Linked DNA regions of Homo sapiens. The protein of the gene in region 5 purifies or fractionates together with the protein of the main gene of each other region. This does not show direct contact. Each region holds a gene or a part of one and is shown on either strand. Other genes may lie near its edges. The genes, in order: HSPA12B, GAPVD1, DHX36, HNRNPR and IVNS1ABP.

Evidence for each region.
Region 1: the proteins of IVNS1ABP (region 5) and HSPA12B purify together in Homo sapiens (affinity purification with western blotting; one study listed by BioGRID). This does not show direct contact.
Region 2: the proteins of IVNS1ABP (region 5) and GAPVD1 purify together in Homo sapiens (affinity purification with mass spectrometry, with the first as the bait; one large-scale study listed by BioGRID). This does not show direct contact.
Region 3: the proteins of IVNS1ABP (region 5) and DHX36 purify together in Homo sapiens (affinity purification with mass spectrometry, with the first as the bait; one large-scale study listed by BioGRID). This does not show direct contact.
Region 4: the proteins of IVNS1ABP (region 5) and HNRNPR purify together in Homo sapiens (affinity purification with mass spectrometry, with the first as the bait; one large-scale study listed by BioGRID). This does not show direct contact.

What each region holds. Positions count from the first base shown.
Region 1 is NC_000020.11:3,735,142-3,739,845, reverse strand, and holds part of HSPA12B (heat shock 70 kDa protein 12B), read right to left. Parts: intron 3,579-4,704; exon of another isoform or gene 3,506-3,578; coding exon of another isoform or gene 3,503-3,505; intron 3,456-3,502; exon of another isoform or gene 3,414-3,455; intron 1,189-3,413; coding exon of another isoform or gene 1,172-1,188; coding exon 1,129-1,171; intron 1-1,128.
Region 2 is NC_000009.12:125,364,803-125,368,447, forward strand, and holds the end of GAPVD1 (GTPase-activating protein and VPS9 domain-containing protein 1), read left to right. Parts: 3' UTR 1-2,405; downstream 2,406-3,645. UniProt on the Homo sapiens protein: Acts both as a GTPase-activating protein (GAP) and a guanine nucleotide exchange factor (GEF), and participates in various processes such as endocytosis, insulin receptor internalization or LC2A4/GLUT4 trafficking.
Region 3 is NC_000003.12:154,300,488-154,303,987, forward strand, and holds part of DHX36 (ATP-dependent DNA/RNA helicase DHX36), read right to left. Parts: intron 2,924-3,500; coding exon 2,842-2,923; intron 641-2,841; coding exon 500-640; intron 210-499; coding exon 107-209; intron 1-106.
Region 4 is NC_000001.11:23,309,097-23,313,800, forward strand, and holds part of HNRNPR (heterogeneous nuclear ribonucleoprotein R), read right to left. Parts: intron 4,607-4,704; coding exon 4,457-4,606; intron 2,227-4,456; coding exon 2,105-2,226; intron 1,971-2,104; coding exon 1,358-1,970; 3' UTR 1-1,357. UniProt on the Homo sapiens protein: Component of ribonucleosomes, which are complexes of at least 20 other different heterogeneous nuclear ribonucleoproteins (hnRNP). hnRNP play an important role in processing of precursor mRNA in the nucleus.
Region 5 is NC_000001.11:185,299,668-185,304,371, forward strand, and holds part of IVNS1ABP (influenza virus NS1A-binding protein), read right to left. Parts: intron 1,897-4,704; coding exon 1,767-1,896; intron 1,530-1,766; coding exon 1,305-1,529; intron 892-1,304; coding exon 770-891; intron 677-769; coding exon 550-676; intron 464-549; coding exon 332-463; intron 217-331; coding exon 43-216; intron 1-42. UniProt on the Homo sapiens protein: Involved in many cell functions, including pre-mRNA splicing, the aryl hydrocarbon receptor (AHR) pathway, F-actin organization and protein ubiquitination.

The DNA.
Region 1 (4,704 bases), on a different chromosome or scaffold from region 5:
CAAATCAGGCAGGTCTGGCTCGCCTTAGGCTGAGCCAGGCAGGCCCTGTGCTCCCTCAGCCACAGTCCTGTCACGTGCTGCCAGGCAGGTCTCCACTCTCCCTGGCCTTGGGGGTAACCTGGGAACACAGGCGAAGGGCCAGGCATGAGGGGGACTCTGGGAAGCGCCTGGACAGGGCCAGAGTCTGAGGTGCTGGAGGGGCAGGGAAAAAGTGGCCACATTTCAAGGGCTCCCTCTCCTCAGGCAGCCAGGGCAGGCTCCAGCCCTGCCACCAGCTGCAGCCCGAGAGGCCAAGTTGCTGTGGCTCGAGCTTGGGAAGGGAGGCAGGAAGGAAGGGCCCAGCCCACCAGGTCTTTGTGAATGGACTTCCTGAGGAGTGTCCCTCTTGCCTCCGGCCTCCCACCCCTGCGGAGAACCCAAGCCTGCTCCCAGACCAGGCTATGGCCAGACGCACATGCACACGCAGAACTCTCTGCATGCGTGCCCACCTGCAGACTATACTCCCGTACACAGATCCTGTGCACAGAGACCTGCCCGCAGAGACACACACTCACTGATGCACTCACACGGGGTCCTGTGCACATGGCCTGAACAAAACACATGGACATTCAAACACTCCTGTGCACACAGACCCTCCATGCACACGCAGAACTCTCTGTATGCATGCCCACCTGCAGACTATACTCCCGTACACAGATCCCGTGCACAGAGACCTGCCCGCAGAGACACACACTCACTGACACACTCACACAGGGTCCTGTGGACAGAGCCTGAACAAAACACACGCACATGCATACACTCCTGTGTGCACAGACCCTTCTGGCACACACAAACACACGCACTCAGCCCACACTCATATACACATGAGGGTCCTGTGAATAGACCAGTCCTGTGTGCACACATACTCACATACACAGACCGGTGCACACAGACCCTTTCTGCACACACAGGGGGGTCCAGTAAACACAGACCTGCCCTGCACACATGCACACACACACACACACTCACTCACAGAAGAGCTGTTGGGAAGCTCTGTGGGAGAGGTACATTGCACAACCTGTAGGTGGGTCTCAGTGCCTGCTCGGGTGAGTGGGTGATGGGTCAGGGCAGAATGGTGGGGGTTCTTACCGATGTACAGCCCCTGCAGGCCCATCTCCGGGACAGCCAACATCCTTGCAGGCCCTGTAGCTGTCAACAGGAACAGACAAGCAGAGTGGGATTTATTTGTCCCTTTGTTCCCTCATCTGAATGCTTATTTATTTTATTTGTTTACTTTTGGCTGGAGTCCTTTGAAGCAAATCCCAGCCATCATGTTGTTTCACCCGTGAACTCTTTAATACATCTCTCCAACAGATAAAGACGTTTTAAACAATGTCATCGCAACACCATTCTCATGTCTAATGAAATTAACAGTAATTCCTTAAATCTCATCTAAAGTCCCACAGTTCCCAGCTTGTGTCAAAAAATGGCTTTACTTTCTTGGAATCAGGATCCTCCTAAATGTTTTCTGGTGCCTGCTCTGTGCCAGGTGCTGGGAGATAGTGACCCAGAGAGACACTGTCCCTGCCCTAGAAACCAACGGTCTGATGGAGGAGATAATCAGGCAAGTGATTTTGAAATGACAAGCGTTGCTGAGTGCTAGGAAGGTCAAAGTTGGATAATGCGGGGTGGGAAGAGGACATGGTAAGTCTGGACAGAGGGCTGGGCTGGGCTTACCCTGCAGGCAGGGCCTGTGCACCCTATTTCAGATTTGATTTTATATGAAGGGCAACAGCAAATCTTGAAAGGTTTGAGGTGGCAGGGTGGGGTGGGGGCATGACTCAATTTGTCTTTTCTTTTTTCTGAGACAGGGTCTCACTCTGTTGCCCAGGCTGGAATGCAGTGGCACGATCTTGGCTCACTGCAACCTCTGCCTCCCAGGTTCAAGCCATTCTCCTACCTCAGCCTCCTCAGTAGCTGGGATTACAGGTGAGTGCCTCCATGCCCAGCTAATTTTTGTATTTTTAGTAGAGACGGGGTTTCGCCGTGTTGGCCAGGCTGTTCTCGAACTCCTGACCTCAGGTGATCCGCCCACCTCGGCCTCTCAAAGTGCTGGGATTACAGGCATGAGCCACCGTGCCTGGCCTTCGTTGTTTGTTTGTTTTGAGATAGGGTGTCACTCTGTCACGAGGAGAACCTACATTTAAAGGCTGAACAGAGGAATATATACCGGCCCAGGAGACTGAGATGCCTCATGGTCTCATGAAGATTGTACCAAGAGATGGGTAAAGCTAGATCCCTGTAAAAGGTCCCCAGATGAGACTGGAAACACTGTTTTAGTGGCCCAAGGGAGGTAAGCTTAGGTGAGGAGTGAGCAAGAGGTGACATGAGCTAGAACTTCTTTTCTTAAGATGGAGTTTCACTCTGTTGCCCAGGCTGGAGTGTAGTGACGCAATCATATTGAGCTAGAATTTCTGAAAAGCTTGGCTGAAATCAGGAATACATGTGAGGGCAGTAGTTGGAGGGCGCTAAAGCTGAAGGGAGGTGAGGAAGAATATTTATTTTCTAAGATGGGAGGGGCTCGATCCTGTCTATGAAGTTCTGGGGCCAGGCTATAGGCAGGATATTTCAAACCATCAACAGCTTTGTTACTCAAAGTGTGGGCTGAGGATCAGCAGCATTGGTATCACCTGGAAGCTTGTTAGAAATGCAGAACCTCAGGCCCCAGCCCAGACCTGCTGAATCAGAACATGTATTTCATATTTATTTATTTATTTATTTATTTATTTATTTATTTATTTATTTATTTTTGAGGCAGAGTCTCACTCTGTCCCCCAGGCTGGAGTGCAGTGGCGTGATCTCAGTTCTCAGCTCACTGCAATCTCCATCTCCTGGGTTCAAGTGATTATCCTGCCTCAGCCTCCCAAGTAGCTGGGGCCACAGGCATGCGCCACCTAATTTGCCTAAAATGCCACCTAAAAATGCCTGGCTAATTTTTGTATTTTTAGTAGAGTCGGGGTTTCACCATATTGGCCAGGCTGGTCTCGAACTCCTGGCCTCAGGTGATCCGCCCGTCTCAGCCTCCCAAAGTGCTGGGATTACAGGCGTAAGCCACCGCGTCTGGCCTATTTTAACAAGATTCCCAGGTGATTCAGGTGCACATTGAAGTTTGAGAAGTGTTGCTCAACAGTGTCTCTCAGCCAGTCTGCAGACCACTGACACTATGTTCTCATTGGTGGGCCTGGCTGCTCCTCTAAACAAAGGAGGAGGCTACGCAGGGCCAATGCATTCCTTCTCTGTCACCAGCGGCCCAATCTGAAAGTTTTGCTATAGAACACAGGCAGACACAGAGCTGGCTCTGGCATGCCCATAGACACATGCACACACCCTTGCTCACACAGTTCACACAAACCAGCCCCATTGTGGACAGACACCTGGACTCCCACACACTCTTGTATGTCCAGGATTCTCCTGCATGGCCAGCACCATGGAGATTTCCAGACACTCTTGCTGTCCTCTGTACCATTGGAGTTGGATGCTCAGGAATCAGAATCAGAAGAAGGATGGGTGCTGGTTGTGGGCATGCATATAGCAGCTGGCTGTTGAGGAGAAAAGGGAAAGCACAGAGAGGGGGAGGGGAGGGTTCTTAGGAGCCAGGGGCAGGAGCCCAGAGCCCAGCTCAGGATGATGGAGTGGGATGCTGAGCTGGGTCCCACCAGCTCATGCGAGCTGATTCTTTCTATCTCTTCCCAATTCTGCATTCAATGACATCACATTGGTAGCTTCAAATCAGTCATGGCTGGGAGTATTTACAAGACAGAAATTGGCAAACACCATAAATCAGGATTTTATCCTTCTTCCAGAGCTGATTGGAAACCATTAACCAGCATACTACTGGATCAAGGTCTCGAGGGAGGAGCTGGCAGCCTTATTTGTATGTTGTTCTGATTCTTCAGCAAACACTTATCGAGATTCTTCATGCCAGGCTCTGTGCTAAGCACTGGGGAACCACTTTGTTGAATGAATGAATGGATTTTCTGGACCGAGGCTATTGTATCTGGAGGAGAAACAACCTAGAACCACCAGAAAAAAAAGACTCTGGGCCGGGCGCCGTGGCTCACTCCTGTAATCCCAGCACTTTCAGAGGCTGAGGCAGGTGGATCACCTGAGGTCAGGAATTCGAGACCAGCCTGGCCAACATGGTGAAACCTTGTCTCTACTAAAAATACAAAAATTAGCCAAGCGTAGTGGCAGACGCCTGTAATTCCAGCTACTCAGGAGGCTGAGGCAGGAGAATCGTTTGAACCTGGGAAGCAGAGGTTGCAGTGAGCCAAGATCGCGCCATTGCACTCCAGCCTGGGCGAGAAGAGTGAGACCCCATCTCAAGAAAAAAAAAAAAAAAAGACTGAGTCCTCGCTCTACACTGGATTCCACATCCAAACCATGGGCCTATACTCTTCCCAGCTATCGGAAGCTTGTCCAGTTATCTACCGTCTCTCATTGTGCGATATGCTGAGTGCCCCTATGCTGGGGTTTCAGGGATGGCAAGAGCCTATTATGGCACCTAGCGTGAGTGCATCATGCCACATCTCTGTGCCTCAGTGCCCTTTCCTGTAGAATGGGTGACACAGAGGGCTTATGTTAACAAGTCCAGATATGCAAGGTATTGATAAAAGCAGGGAGTTGGGCAGGTTTGAGCAGTGTTCTTTCCCTTCATGATGCAGA
Region 2 (3,645 bases), on a different chromosome or scaffold from region 5:
GTGTGATTTCTGAGACCTAGATGAGAGTCCATTTACTTCAGCCTTTGATTCAGTAAATGTTAAGCAGCAGAAGACTTCGAATGGTTGAAATTCATTGTTACAGGATTTAACTCATAAACCAATGAGAGATTTTTTTTTTCTCTGCAATGGTTGCTAAGTCTATTCCATGTTAACACTGTGGAAATAAATATGAAGATGTGGACATTGCATCGGGGCTCTTTTCTGTGGAAGAGAAGGTGGTGGGATTGGGGTGAAGGGCTACACTGGAGGCAGGAGATAGGGCTGTGCTGTGTTGGAGCCGGGGCTGAGGGTAGACCCCCCAGAGATTTGACATCTGTGACACCTGTGAAATGGGTTCGGGTGCTCATGACTCCATAGCTGGCGGAGGAGCACAGCACAGCTGTTGCAGGGGCAGCTAAGGTTTCCTCTGAAAATCTGTCAGGAGCAAGGACTACTTTGGCATTAACCATCACTGTTTGATTTCTTGACAGGTATGTGAGATGGGGAGTGATTTGATTTTTTTTTTTTTTTTTAATAGAAAAGAGGAATAGTTGTTCCCCAAATGTTTCTTCCTCCACTGCCTTCCAGTACTTTCTTTACATGAAAGATTAGTGTAAAAGTACAAAATCAGCCCAGGAAACATTCAGCAGCCACTAGTTACTACATAGAATTTATAAAGTGGATGTTAAATGGAGAGAGAGTTGGCTCAGGTCCCCTGAAATCTTGTAGGATTAACTTCTCTGAGGAAAAGAAAAATCAGGTTTGCATTTTGTATTAATATTCTGCTTTTAGAAGTAATAGAAATACAAGTTGAAGATTGTCTTTACTTACAAAATTATATTTTAATTTTTTTTGAGACATAGTCTTGCTCTGTCACCCAGTCTGGAGTGCAGTGCTGTGATCTCGGCTCACTGTAACCACCATCTCCCAGTCTCTAGTGATTCTCATGGCTCAGCCTCCCTGGTTGCTCAGATTACAAGTGTATGCCACCACACCCAGCTAATTTTTGTATTTTTTGTAGAGACAGGGTTTCGCCATGTTGGCCAGGCTGGTCTCGAACTCCTGGCCTCAAGTGATCCGCCTACCTCGGCTTCCCAAAGTGCTGGGATTATAGGCGTGAGCCACCGTGCCCAACCACAAAATTATATGTATATATATTTAAACGTGTCAAACATTTTGCTTTCTTTCTCCATTTTAGGTAAAATCTCAGCCACAGTAATTGCTTTCTTCTGCTTTTTCTTTATAAAAACCTGCTTATGAAGGCCTTCTGATACAGATAGTTAAATCGCTGTAGTAGGAGGCTCAGGTTTTCTAAGGGATTGCAAATGTGCTGCATGGTTTTTCTATTCCTATGTCCTGGAAGCCTTTGTTTAAAGTGGGCTTTACAAATGTGTCCCTGAGGTGCGTGAGCAAGAGAACAATCTCAGCCCCAATACGGGGGCTGTGTTCTTGCCGTAAGAATCTGTAGCTGACTGGTGTGCTGAACCCGGGCACTCTTTTTCCTATTGTTTGCCATGGAAATTTCCACTTTGGACCGAGTAAGGTCAACTAGGTGTTTTAAAATTGTTTTTCTCCTATGTGATTGGGTGTGAAGAGGGAAAGTAGGAATACACTCAGAATTATTACTGGATTGCATAAAAGTGATAGAAGTGTAGTGGGGTTCACTTCCTCAATTGGTGCTTCCTAGATTTTTCTCTCCCATCTCTTCCTGCTTTGTTTCTTTAAAGAAAAGGCTGTTGTCTCTCTTTTTAAATATTTAAGTCTAGTGAGTTTATTTTGTACGCAATTGCTTTAATTTTAAGGGAAGTAAATCTGAAACTATCTTGAAGCCCAAAGGATTTTTAGTAAGTGGATTAACAGTGATGAGGTATTTGCGATTACTTTAAATGCCAAAATGCTTGAGAACTTTGCCAGGTTAAAAATTACTTAATATATTTTAGAATGTAGGTTAGAAAGTAGTAGGACAAGGAATAGCTTTATTACTCTTGAGAACACTTGGATAAATGAAAATATAGTTTGCTTCCGTGTTAAGTTGTGGTTGAGCTATGGAGTGACCCTGGAGCTGCCGCATCCCACAGGCCTGAGCTCAGCAAGGGTTCAATTCAAGAGAGATGACGTCTCCACTTGGATAATGGCAGACAGTGTGGGTAGCGGCCATGCACTAGGGGAATTCACCTCTGTCAAATTAATACTCTCCTGTCTACTGGATTCTTCTTGTGCTTCACCTGGATTAAAAAGCTGTACTGCCTCTTTTGAAACAGATAAAACCTTTCTATAAGTCTCAATTAATGAGCTTGCACAATCTTGTATATGTACAGGAAACCCCTCCTGTCTCCTAATGTGATTAGTACTGTAAAATATTCTATAAAACTGATTAAAAGGGGAGAGCAGTTTGATTCACAGGGTTTTATGTTTCTGTCATCTATTTTATATTCAGAAGCATTTCTGAAAACGTATTTGACTTCCGAATGTTCTGATGTTCTCCGTGAATTCACACACATCTTTTTTATCTGAACAATAAGGGTGTTTGCTAAGTATGGCACAAGAAGGAACTAGAATGACCTGGCAGTAACTAACACAATGGTGAACATCTAAGGGTTTTTTTTTTTTTTTTTTTGAGACAGGGCCTGGCTCTGTCGCCCAGGCTGGAGTGCAGAGGCAGGATCTAGGGTCACTGCAAACTCTGCCTCCTGTTCTCAAAGATCCTCCAGCCTCAGCCTTCCCAGTAGCTGGGACAACAGGCATACGCTACCACACCTGACTAATATTTGTATTGTTTGTAGAGGCAGGGTTTTGCCATGTTGCCCAGTCTCCTGAGCTCAAGCGATCTGCCCGCCTCAACCTCCCAAAGTGCTGGGATTACAGGCGTGAGCCACTGCACCCAGACCTTCATCTATGGATTTAACAGTTTCTGCCTAATGCCTATATTTGGTAGCTATTTATCATTTTTCATTTTGAAAGCAAAAGTGTTGCCATCTAATCACAATATTCATTTAGGCCTTTATTAATCTTTCCAGCCAAGGGAAGTTACTTTTGACAAGGAGTACTAACTCATTCTTCAGGCTTCCCTTGCTGGTGAGAAGGCGCTTTTCTTATATTGATTGCACTTCATTTAGAAGGAAATAGTTAAAAACTTGCTTACGGCCCATTTCCATTTGCTCTGTTCAGTATTTTTTTTTTTTTTTTTGAGGCAGAGTTTTGCTCTTGTTACCCAGGCTGGAGTGCAATGGCTCGATTTTGGCTCACTGCAACCTTCGCTTCCCAGGTTCAAGCAGTTCTGCCTCAGCCTCCTGAGTAGCTGGAATACAGGCATGCGCCACCACGCCCAGCTGATTTTGTATTTTTAGTAGAGACGGGGTTTCGCCATATTGGTCAGGCTGGTCTCGAACCCCTGACCTCAGGTGATCCACCTGCCTCGGCCTCCCAAAGTGCTGAGATTACAGGTGTAAGCCACCGCACCCGGCCCACTCTTCAATATTAAAACGAGTGGTATGACGCCTAGAACCAAAAATAGCATTCAGCTTTTCTTGCCAACTTGGAATTTACCTGTGTCGCTTGGACTGCTGTTACGCTTGTACCCACTCAACCCTTTCCGCAAGTACAGGGCTCCGTAGCTTTTCCTCACAGGATGCTGAGCTACTGACA
Region 3 (3,500 bases), on a different chromosome or scaffold from region 5:
CTTCCAGTCTATTTCATAAGCATTTAAGAAAACTGTATTTTTCATGGCCTTGATACGTTAATAAAATTAAAATTATGTTAACTGAAGAAAGAAAAATAAAACTAACCTCTTCTTCCAAAACAATGTATCGGATGAGGGCAACAATCAAATTCAGATCAACTTTATCATCCTCCATCATTTCTATAACATCTACAGTACTTGCAGAATACCTATCAAAGTTAAACACAAAGTCATGAAATACTTAATCAAGTTTTCTGTTAACTTGCTACAAAAGCTTAAAATTAACTCAATCTGCAAATGGAGGAACATAATCTACAGATCGGAGAGAATTACTGGGGTAATTACTGCTTAAAAGTCAAATCAGCACAATATTTAGCTCGAATAAGAGACTCACAATGCTCTCCTTTAAGTACGTACAGATTCAAGAAGATGCCCCCAGCCTCTGGCTTTTTGTTTTATTTAGCCACTGATTTCTCACCTTCAGACAAAATAAACTTACCTTCTTCGCAGTTCCCTTACATAATCTGGCCAACGTTCTTTATATATTGCTTCTTTTTCTTCTTTTTCTTGTCTATTTACATGCCCTTGCATGAAACCCCTCTTAAACTGGGATCTGTGTTCTTTTTGTTCTGGAACATACCTAAAATAAAAACATTCTTGAATATCTTCACTTTTTTGAAACTCTAGTTTTAGCTAAAATCTGTGACATTTTATATTTAGGATTTTCAAAAAGGATTCCAAAGAACATTTTCATTATGCTTTCAAGTGAATGCTAGCTAAAATATCAGTTTGTGTTCATTAACTTATAAAACCTGATATTTTGGATAAAAATCATTCTTCTTTATTGAAGTATATAAACCTATAGATCATTTTTAGTCAAAAATTTAGAAAAAGACTAAAGTAAGTAACTTTTACCTTCTATTTTAAGTTTGCTTTAGAACAAAAGTTAATATTAATGTTAAGTCCAAACCTGACTGCACGTAAGAATTGAATCCCTCAGAGAGCTTGTAAAATACAGACTCCTAAATCCCATCCCTGATGATTTGGATTTGGTAGGTATGCCTTGGGTCTGTTAATCTAAGAATTTTAATTAGTGCCTGCAGGAGATTCAGATAGTGTATCCAGATCTACAGACCCACGCTAGAGAACTATTTAATTCTGCTCAGTCACACAGTTGTAGTTAATGGCAGATCCAGAATCAGTATTCAAGTCTCTCATATGTCAATTGAGTGCTGTACTATGATTCTACTACCATCCTGTAGTGATTGCTAAAACCATAGAGGGCGCATCTGGACAATAATTCTACCTATCATTGTCAGTCCTGAGAGGCACGAGGTGGGAAAAGACAAAAATGAACCCACACTTTAACCCCAAGGCATCTCTGAGCTCAACTAGAGGACAGCATCTAGATGGAATGGGGGAGGGGCTGGAGCATGGACTCCCAAGTCAGAATATCCCTCCTCTGCTACTGACTAGCTGTGTAACCTTAGACAAGGCATTAAACATCTGGCCTTTAGTTATCTTATTTGAGAGATTAATGTTTGTAACAGTACTGGCATGAGATTTTTAAAAATGTGATAAAGTAAAAAAAAAAAAAAAAGTGATAAAGCCTCATGTATAGCACAAAGAGTGCTTCCCTAAGAGTGAAGAACATAGTACCAAAAGAGGAACTATTGTATTAGCACAGGAGAGATAGTAAGGACCTTAGCAAAGAAATAAAAATGAGAAAGCATGTTCAAGAAGAAAGTTCCCAGAGTTTGTGTGTGTTTGAAGGCAGTACAAAATGACTTGGATTAACTTGGTTACTCACTGTGTAAAACAGTTGCCATACCCTGGTACATAACTGCCTGATACACACTAACTTTTTGATTTATAGGTCAGAAAACTAAGTGGAGGATAATTATTAACCATTATAAAGTATGCTGGGCAAGACACATTGTTTTATTTTTTTGGTGGGAGAATATAAGATAATGATTTAGGCTTGAGAAATGTTAGGTTCAAGGCATCTGTGGTACTAGAATACTATTGAGCAGAAAGCCAGTTCGAAGGTCAGGAGAAGCTTCAGTTCTGAAGCTACACTACTGAAAGCTGTGAAAATACAGAACTACAGTTAGGGATATAAACAGGTTTGCACAGTGAAAACATAAATGATTGAGAAGACTGGGGGAAATTATATTTAAAGGTTCGGCAATGGAAGCCAACAAAGGAAAGTGAAAATCAGGCAGGAGAACCAGCAAAAGGGTTCAAACACTAAAGACAAAGGTTCCCAAACTTTGCTGCCCAGGAATCTTCAAAAAACACTGACACCAGCCAGGCGTGGTGGCTCACACCTGTAATACCAGGACTTTGGGATGCTGAGGCAGGCAAATCACTTGAGGTCAGGAGTTTGAGACCAGCCTGGCCAACACGGTGAAACTAGTTTCTACTAAAAATACAAAAATTAGCTGGGCATGGTGGCACACACCTGTAATCCTAGTTACTTGGGAGGCTGAGGTGGGAGAATCACTTCAACCTGGAAGGCGGAGGTTGCCGTGAGCGGAGATAGCTCCACTGCACTCTAGGCTAGGCGACAGAGAGAGACTCTGTCTCAATTAAAAAAAACCACGGATGCCTGGCTACTACCTCAGACACTGTAATGTAATTTAGGTAGGGAGTATAAATCAGGCATCTGGATTTTAAAAAGCTCCAGGCAATTTTAATGTGCAGCCAAGTGTGGCTAATTCCCAGAAAAATGTTTTACAAGGAAATAGTCAATGATGGGTTTCTGAGACTAAAGTTTGACATGAGAAAAGTGATATATTAGTACTTTTTAATGTTTTTTATTTCCTAATGTTTACTTACCTTATTTTTTCAATTACATCTTCCAAAAGATATTCCACAACCGGAAAGGTAAAACCAGGTATATGTATCATTGGACAGTTACCTATTACGGCAGACAAAATATAAGCATAAATTTGTACTCAAATGTTAAAAACATTAATATACTGTAAATAGGACAATGACTCTATTACTTACTATTAATTCCAGAAAATGGTCCTGTAGCTTTTACAATTCTACCCTACTTTTCCACACCTACTTTAATAAAAAACAGCAGTCTAGTCTTCACTCAATACCATTTTACTGCTACCAAACTGTACACACATCTCACAGTTCTACAAAATAACACAGAATATCAAAGAATAGAGTTTTAAGTTGAACTCAAAATCCATTAGTTAGAAGTCTATTTTCTCTTCATCATTAACCCAGATGGTGCCATAATAGAATATCCAGAATATCAAAGTTTTACTGAATTCTAGATAAGCATTACTACTTGTAGCACCCGGAATTAGCGGAGAAAGGTAATCAAAACAAAACCTAAACAAATAGATTGTTACTATTTCAAAATTACTAATAAAAAAATCACTTCGGTACTGTTATTTAAATGCTCTTTACATTTCATAACAAGCGAAACAAGCAGTACACACTGTAAAAAGCAAACATCACATCAGAGGTCAAAATAC
Region 4 (4,704 bases), about 160 Mb from region 5:
TTATGTCTTGGCCAACAAAAAATTTGGGCATCAGGGATAGCAGATAAATAAAAATAAACGAAGTGTTAACAGAAAGTCAAAGGTATTACTACTGGATATTTTTAAGCCTCTCTTACAAGGCATGAATGTTTCTCAAAGCAAATTTACATAGTAATAGGAAATTATATTCCTAAACCAGTAACTGAAATGGTAGTCACGATCATTTTCACTAAAACTAAAGTCCGCAGTGCAATTGACGCCACAGTACTAACAATTTTCCCTGTATGTACATTCACTTATCCAGCAAATAAGGTCTTCAGTCACAAATTATCCCTTATAAAGAATGTGGGTCAAAATAAATTGCAGTCTGCTTTCCCAGCCACATTTTATTTGTTTTAATGCAAATTATCCAATGCCTGCAAGAATGCTCAAAAGTCTATGAACCTGTTTTTTTTTTTTTAATAAAAGATAAAATTTCAAAATTAGAAGAGACTATGAGAGAACACCAATCAATGAAAGTGCTAATTGGAATAAATACTTGAATTTAGACTAATCCTCAGTCTAATATCCACAACACATGTTGGAATAAACAAGAAATTTTGCATGAATTTGATCACTCACATAGGCAGTTATACTTTGAAAACAATATTCCTTGCAAGGATTACGAATAAAATAATGTTTTAGGACACAATTGAATTTGAAATAGGTAATGTTTTGAATAGATTTTTTAGTTTTATTGAAATCTTACATGAACAAGAAATTGGAAATACAATCACATCAAAGAACAAATTGTCACGGCTTTTGACGTTTAAGCCAAACAAATTTTGTAGGGCAGATTTCAAAAAGGTGTGAAGTTATAACAATTTAAAAACACAGTTAACCTACTTCTAGGAATGCAAAACATACAATCATAGGTTATTTTCAATACAAGAAAACTTAAATTTGTTTGCTTTAATTTCTTAAAACTACTAAGACAAAGCACTAGCTTGTATTTTTATTTACAGCATACTCCATACTCCTATGTAATCTATCCCAAATCCAAAAAAATGAAACTGTCCAAAACCAAAGGTTCTGCAAAATCATGATTTAACAGTGTGCCCAGCTTGTTTTGAAGCTAAAATGAAGCCTGAAACGATAAAAGCATTGTAATCCCCAGAATAAGGGAACTCTGCAAGCCCAATAATGTCCAAGAGCATTTATGAAAAGAGGAAAAATAAAAAGACTTGAGTATATACACAATAGTGATTTCTTCAGCCCAATACAAATGGCAGCAAAATGCTACTTAAAGATGAAACAGTTAAGCCAATTTTTTTTTTTGAAGAATGTAGATCTAGAGCCAATCGTATCTTGCCAGTATCATTTTCAAGCCCTTACTTGTCTACTTCCACTGTTGCCCATAAGTATCCTGATAAAATTCCTGGTTGTCATTATTGTAACCATAGTTACCAGAATAGTCACCACCTTGCTGAAGCGGCTGCTGAGCGATGGGTTGGGAACCCCAGTTCTGTTGGTTGTTGGTCTGACGACGCTTGGAATCAGGCTGGTTGTACCCATCTGCCTTTCTCTTGCCTCCTACATTGCCCCCACGATTGCCCCGAGATCCACGGGAACCACGGCCTCTCTGCTGTTGAGCAGGACCCCCTCTGCCACCCCTAGAGCCTCTTGGTGGTCCCAAAGGTGCCCCCCTCTGTGAATAGCCAGCTCTACCTCTTGGAGGTGGTGCTCCCCTCCCCCTTGGTGGTGGTGGAGCACCTCGCCCTCCCCTTCCTCCTCCTCTTCCTCTTACTGCATAGCCATCATCATAGCCGTAGTAGGGATCTTCATAGCCTCCACGATAGTCGTGATAATCATAACCATAGTAATCATCATAGTAATCTTCATAGCCGTAGTAATCTGGAGGGTAGCCATATCCACCTCTCCCCCCACCACGACCCCGACCTCTAATTGGAGGTGGCATGCGAGGAGGAGGGTGGTAGTAATAATCTTCATACCTAGCAAAGTAGAGAAGGGAGAAAAGAAAAAACAAATCAGTTTGCTTCAAGACTCTGATTTTGTTTTATTAATCTGATCTCCATTATCACGTTATTCCTTGTCCAAAGATATATCTACTAAAATGTAGACTCACGCAGTGCTTCTGGAGGCCTGTCTAGCAGCTTGGCGCTCTTTCCTTTTCTTGTCTGGTGGCTTGGCTAAGACTATTTCAATTTCTTCCCCTTCTATTTCTTTGCCATTCATTTCATCCATAGCCTATAAAAAATTAGAAAAATTATTTTACAACGATATAAAACTGTATTTTGTTTTATATAGTATGTAAGCTATTATACTTGTGTAATTTAATACACTTAACAATTTACTTCACAATTATTTTAAATGGCAAAAGGTGAATCTAGCCAGAAAGTTAAACACAAACACACAAAGAAAATACGTTTCCCTTGACCTTATCTTTTTATACATAAATTACATTTAGAACAAAACCGACCACCTGATATTATATTTTAAAAGGTAAAAGGGCTGCCACCTATTGCTGCTCCTTAATTCCAAATAACTCCTTAAAAGATAAGCCATACCAAAGAAGCAAATCCATACCGGGGAAAAATGCCAGTATTAATACGAGCCAGACAAAGATTAACTTCTCAGGATTAGAATTTTAAAATAAACATGTAGCATACAACATACAGGTCTTCCACTGTTCTTATACGACAATTTCAAGGATTTGAAGCACAAATGAGGTTACTGAGTGAGATTATCTGTAAAATTCAAGAAGATACTAACACAAAAAAGCCTAGGTTTCCCTCACAATGCTTAACCCAAAATGTACTTTGCTTGAACAGTTAAAAGTACAGAGCCAGAAAAGGCCTGGACTAATGAAGACTCAAGCAATTATGTAGAAAGCAGTAATCAAACATTCCATGTTCTAGCCCTTTGTTCACGTTGTTCCACCTAACAACCTCTGCCATACATCAAAAGGTTCAGGTACTCAGTAACAAAATGTCACCTCCTCATGATATTTTATTTTTTGTTTCCCTATACCTTTCCCCACTCTGGGCACACATAAAAAAATGTTCTATTGGAGCTATCAGTGATTTATAAGTATCTAGACAAAAACGAAACTAGTCCTCAAGACTGCAATTTTCCCTTTTACCACCTCAGCTTTGCGTTGCTTCAGTTAAAGCAACTAAACAAGTTTACAAAAGCTTCCTGGCATAAATTAAAAAATGAAACATCTACCCTCTGCCCTGACCATCCTGGTGACTCCCAGTTCCTGGACTAGATATTTTATAATTTCATAGGCTTCTTTGGCAAACCATCCTATAAATATTTTCAATCAGGACAACCAGTTATTTGAAACCAGTCGAGTCAGGAGGAATATTTAGACAGCATAAAATTATTAGTTATCTGCATTCTATACCAGTGAAATTTCAGAAGCCACAAATGAACGGATAAGAGTATAACAGCATAACAGATAAGACTCCATACTTCAAAGCCAGATTATTACTGAGTTTGTGATCTTGGACAAGTTATGAATTTTATGAACAATACTGCCTCATTAATTAGCTACCATCAATGAGCAAGCCAATTAATTATAAACCAATCAGGGATTCTATAAAGCCTGTTTTAAAAGCAGTAGCCTGGGCAAAAAACAAAACCAAAAAATGCTCAGATTAGAGATGGCAGTATCCCACCGACCAAACATGCAGAAAAAGAACCATGCCTGTGTCACTAAGCATTCTGGATCTATCTTCCTAATAACATAAATAAGATTTTAGTAGTGTTTTGTCTTGCTCCCACCCCCCCAAGGAAGGAGAGATGAATAAAAAAAAGAAACTGAAAATTTCACCCATTAAAGATAGTCCTAAACCATTGTCGATAGAAAGCAGGTTTTGTGTTCCAGATACCATATGAAAATACTTTCTTCAAACTTTTCATTATCATCAAAGACTAAATCAACTATTATACACAAGTGATATCTCTAACAATTACCGAAATCAGTAAAACATAGTGAATGCTATTTTAACTCTAAAATGATTAAATAAAGGTAAAACTAATCATACCCTCAAAATCTATCTACTCAATTAAACATGGTATACTGTATGAGTCATGTACACCACTCAGTTTCCTTCATAGGTACACAAACTGAGGTCAACTAAGTAGTTATAATGCATTCATTACCTATTCAGTGTTTACAGCAGCTAATTTTTATACCTTGTAATACTTCCAAGGCATCATGCTATCGAATCTTACAAAACAATACAGAGATTAAAAATAACTTGCCTAAGATCACAAACTCAGTAATAACCTGGCTTTGAAATATGGAGTCTTATCTGTTACATACTATTACCACTTTACAGAGATTAAATAGAAAGAGTTCAGCAAAAGCTGACAACCAATATTGTTTCAGTTTTTAAAGTTACTTTGTGTTTGGCAAGTTTCAAAAACAAAATTCAAATATCAAGAACCAAAATTTCAAAATTCCTACCTTAACAGCTGCTCCTCTGTCTTCAAAATGAACAAATGCATAATCTTTCAACTTCTTTACTCTTTCGAGTTTTCCAAATTCAGAAAATGACTTTTCCAATATTTCTTCTGTCACCGTAGTAGCCAAGTTTCTCACAAACAAAACTTTTACCTAGTAAGCAACAAATAAACAAAACCGTCATTGGCTACTTAATTTTACCTGAAAAGTGTTTCTTCCTGTCTTCATAGCATAGCTTTTCTCCTCTAAAA
Region 5 (4,704 bases):
TGCCACTATCTACTCTTCACCTCTCCAAATCCCAACACTCACCATTAAGAACAGCCACTCCAGCTCCTCGCCTAGCCACATTCATGGGTGCAATTAAAGTCCAGGTATTATTTTCAGGATTGTATCGTTCTACTGTGTTCAGACAATTCCAAGATTCTGCACCTCCGATTATGTACAAATAACCACCAAGCTCACAGACTGCAGACTGGTGTCTCCCTACAAGAAAAGTCAAGTCAAGATTATTGCTACATCTCCCAGACTCTAAGTGTATACTACACATACTGTTGATTTGAAGGTCTTTAAAAAAAAAAAGGAAAAAAAATCAACTTACGAATGTTAAGAGGGGCACAGCTTGTCCACAACTTTGTTACAGGATCAAATACATCACAATTTTTCAGTCCTTTTTGACCATATGGATCAGAGCCACCAACGATGTATAACTTTCCATTCAGAGCACACACTCCTATGTAAGTATAAAATAAAGTTACATATTGATAATTTAATTATCATATTTAAATACTGGATATCTCAGGAGAAAACTATTATTACCTGCATTACAACGGTTAGTTCTCAATTCTGGAACAGGAATCCAGTCATCTATGTTTGAATCATACATCTCTCCACAACTCAGGTCATCTGAGTGGCCATTTGATCCACCTACCACATAGAGCTGGCCCTATGCCAAAAGTGAGAGATGAGAATTTCTAACATCCTGAAGTTACGAGGAAAAAGCTAAATAGGGGTTGCTCCTGCAACATAATGCGCTTACCATGAGTACAGCCATTTGAAATCGGGCTCTTGGTGTTCTCATGGGAGCAAGAAAGGACCAGTGATCTGTATGTGGATTATAGCATTCGACTGTTCGAAGACATTCCTCTCTGTTATAGCCACCTGGTAAAAAATAAAACCATAAAGATTTATGTTTAAAATATTAAACTGGACCACGGTTTCCAGTCCTGTAAGTTTAAGAAATCTGCACAATGAGAAAAAGTATTAAAACTTTTTAAGGATGCCTTAGTTGATCTTTTAACTAAGTGCTTGTAATAGCTGAAAAATCGCATTATCAGTACAAATAAACTGCTTAGTCTTGGCTTGAATATTAGAAAAATTTAGCCATGACATAATTTTTTTAAAAATTAGATACAGACATTGAACTGAAGGTTAGCCATATTCAATAGTATTGTTATTTCCCTATCTTATTGGATTGCCGTGAAAGATGGCATATTAAACCCTCTCTTTGAAAGTTTGCATGTCACAAAAATGCCCATCTACATGCTTAGCCAGTTGAATGCTTCTGTTCTTACCTGCAGCTATGAGTTTGCCATTCATCTCTGCTGTTCCCAGACCAGATCGTGCGTACTGCATAGGAGACATGGGCTTTTCGATTAGCTCATCTTGTTGCATCTCAAAGCTTAAACTCTTACTTAGTTTTGGAGTACTTGTTGGTGAGCTCTGTGGGCTGTTTCTCCCATGAAGAAAAATGACACAGAATATACCATCCAGCACAGCCAGGCACAAGTAAGTGTTATCTGTAAGCACAAGAGTTCCATGTTTAAGATGTAATTATTACTTTTGGTTTGTGTATATGATCCTGAATTGGACTCCAGTCTCCACATCCCAGACTGGAACAATCTGCTCTCGTTTTCCAAATTTAATTGCTTCTGAGTTTTTTCCTCGAGTAGTCAATTTAAGAGGTATTAAATTGGCAACACTCCTTCTTAAAAATAGGTAAGCTGAAAACAATCTGGCAAGTGTCATATACTTACTTGAAGTCTTTTCTGAAGCAACGATTTTCCACTCATGCTTAGGGCTTTGTACTGTAGCATTTGGAGAAGAGAGACATCCAGTTGAACTGCTACTTATCTGCTTATGGCCATTCTCACGTGGTGGCTTTTTCTGCAAAATCAAAAGGTAGCTACAGAAACCTAGCCAAAGACCACATCTGATGTACCTTTGTTCCTGAGCTATTCCACAACACTGAGTATCCTTCACCTATATATGACATTTATAGGACACTAACTTTAACTCAAGCCAACACTTTCCAAATGACACAAATTACTGGCATACTTCCATCTCCACTCAATGATGAGACAACTACGCCTACACAATTAGCCTAGGTAAGAAAAAGCTCAGTTTTAACAATTTGAAAAACATGTTGCAAATCAAGACCTCAGCAGAAGAAAAAACCAATCTATAATTATTTTTATATTAAGTATAGAATCTTTTAAAAGAATGCTATAAATTTAAAATAGTGTGAATTAACAGAGAATACATTTAACCCACTATTTTCATGAAATTGTCAAACCTAACTAAATCATATGTACAGGTATCCTTCATACAATGCCAGCAAAACGTAAGCAGATATAGATTCATCCAGTTTCTCTGAAAGTACTTGACAGGAAAAAAGTGGCAATTACAAGAAACACTTAAAGAATATTTCTTTAGGATTACCTTATAGGTATTATAGAGTGGTTTTCTAGACAAAATTACATCAAAACACAAGAAAATAGTAATCAGAAATGAAACATTACTAAAAACAACCAAATATTCACAAAAGTAGAATATACAGGAATACTAAAGAGGGAGAAATGAACAAAGCTGCCAATTTCCAAATGATTGTAAGAGAACTACTTTACACATGTGTTCTCATGTATGAGTTTTCCTTGATGGCTTCCTTCCAATTACTTTAGCCTTTGCCACTTCCAAAGGATATGATCATATGGAATTGGAAGAGTAAAGACTACTCTGAGAGGAACTGCCAAATGAACAGGTAGCAACTTCAGCACCTGGCCTAGTTTGCTCATCCCACTTGTGCTGGTCCAGATGGCCAGAACACATGGATAGGTAAAATTTCTAATGGAAATTTCTGTTGCTAGTGGAAGCAAAAAGCCATATAACAAGTAATTGAGAAAAAGATTTTGCTAGCTACTTGAAGCTATTAAGAAAAAGCTATATCAAAAGTTAGGCCTGAGTGTGGTTACAACATACGTAGGCTATTTTGAGAAAAGGCAGGGAATGTATCATTATCAATGGTTATGATTAAATTCCACTTAGATGTTTACTATGTACCTAGGTATTACTAGGTACTTTATTTACATCATCTCTTTTAGTCCAGTGAGGGTGATATTATCTACCCATTTTATAGATAAAAATATTGAAACTCAAGAAGATATGCATTGCCCAAGGCAATACAACTAAAATAAAGATTAGGAATTATGAAGATAAACCCCATCCTTTTTATACTATGACAAGTTATGTCATACTATAAAACAGATTTACACTATGACAGGCTGTTTTCCACTGTTACTAAAGTTGTGAATGCATCTTTCATATCACTTTTATACTATGAATATTAAGAATAAAAAATAAGGTTAGACTTATCTAACCTTATCTATTATTATGAATTACAAGGTACATAAAACCTCATCCCAACCTATGGGAAGAAGGGATCCAAATATCACAAATGGATGATGCTTACATTGAGGCTGTACTGAAGTAAAAAAACTGTTCTAATGTACAAACTATAATTAAGAGAAAATGACTGTGAAAGAGAAAGGCCCAAAAGCAATGCCTAATAACAAGCCTAATATAGAAATGCTGATTAAATCCTTTATATGTAAAGAATATATCCCTAAACCTTATTTTACATGACCTCCCAGAGAACTTGACAGTGTTTAGTCCTCCTTCAAACTTTCTTCTCCTACCTTAGGTAGCTTTTACAACATGATTAGATTCTTATTGTCCTCTGACTTTTCTAATGGCTTCTTCTCAACCTCCTTTTTCTATTCCTGAAGTCTAACATGTGTCCCTCGCATCCTCTTCATGATCTCTATTCATGGCATCACATTCTAATGAGTCACACATGTCAGAATCCCACTTATTCTCAAATTCTTTCTTTTCCCTAATCTTGCTAAGCAATCACTAAGGCCTGCTAAGTCAACCTTTGTAAATATAAATGTCTATTTATATATAGACATAAATAAAAAATCTATCCTTTCTCCTTCATGCCCCTAGATTAATCCCTCATCATTTTTTTAAAACCTGAACTACTGCTGGCAATAGTCTATAAACTGGGCTCAAACTTTTATTGATTTTCTGTGTCTGGTTATAAAAATAGGAAGGGTCCAAGGCAACAATTTTAGAAAATAAAACCAGAAATCAGTTGGGATATTCCAGCCCAAAGACTGCCACCTAATAGACTGTTCCCCAGTTTTTCACCATTACTAAAGTGAATGCAAAACTTTCGTATCACTGTATTCTTACCTAAGGCTTCCCACTGCCTATAGGATAAAGTATAAGCCCCATTCAGGGAGCATTTACCTACTTTCCCAGTCTTATGACCTGCAATTCCAAGAGTATCATCCTCACAGATACTCTTTGCTAACACCTCTCCCTTTATCTGCTATGCAGACTCCTCTAAATCCTAACACTGCTCAAAAGTTACCTCTTGTGTGAAATATCCCTGGCTTCTCTCCTGTCTCACTGTGTCCTCTCCTTTAGGCCTTTCGTAGCTACCTCTTATAAGCCTGTATTGTTTTGCCCACTCTTAGAAGGTCCTACAAGCAGAAACTGTCTCTTACACATTTTTGTGTTGCCATACCGAACATTATGGCCTGCCACTTATTGGGCACTCAACCTCTGCATGTTGAAAATGTACTTTTAAAATGTTAACTCAAAATGTTTAGAGTTAAGGGGGAAAATATC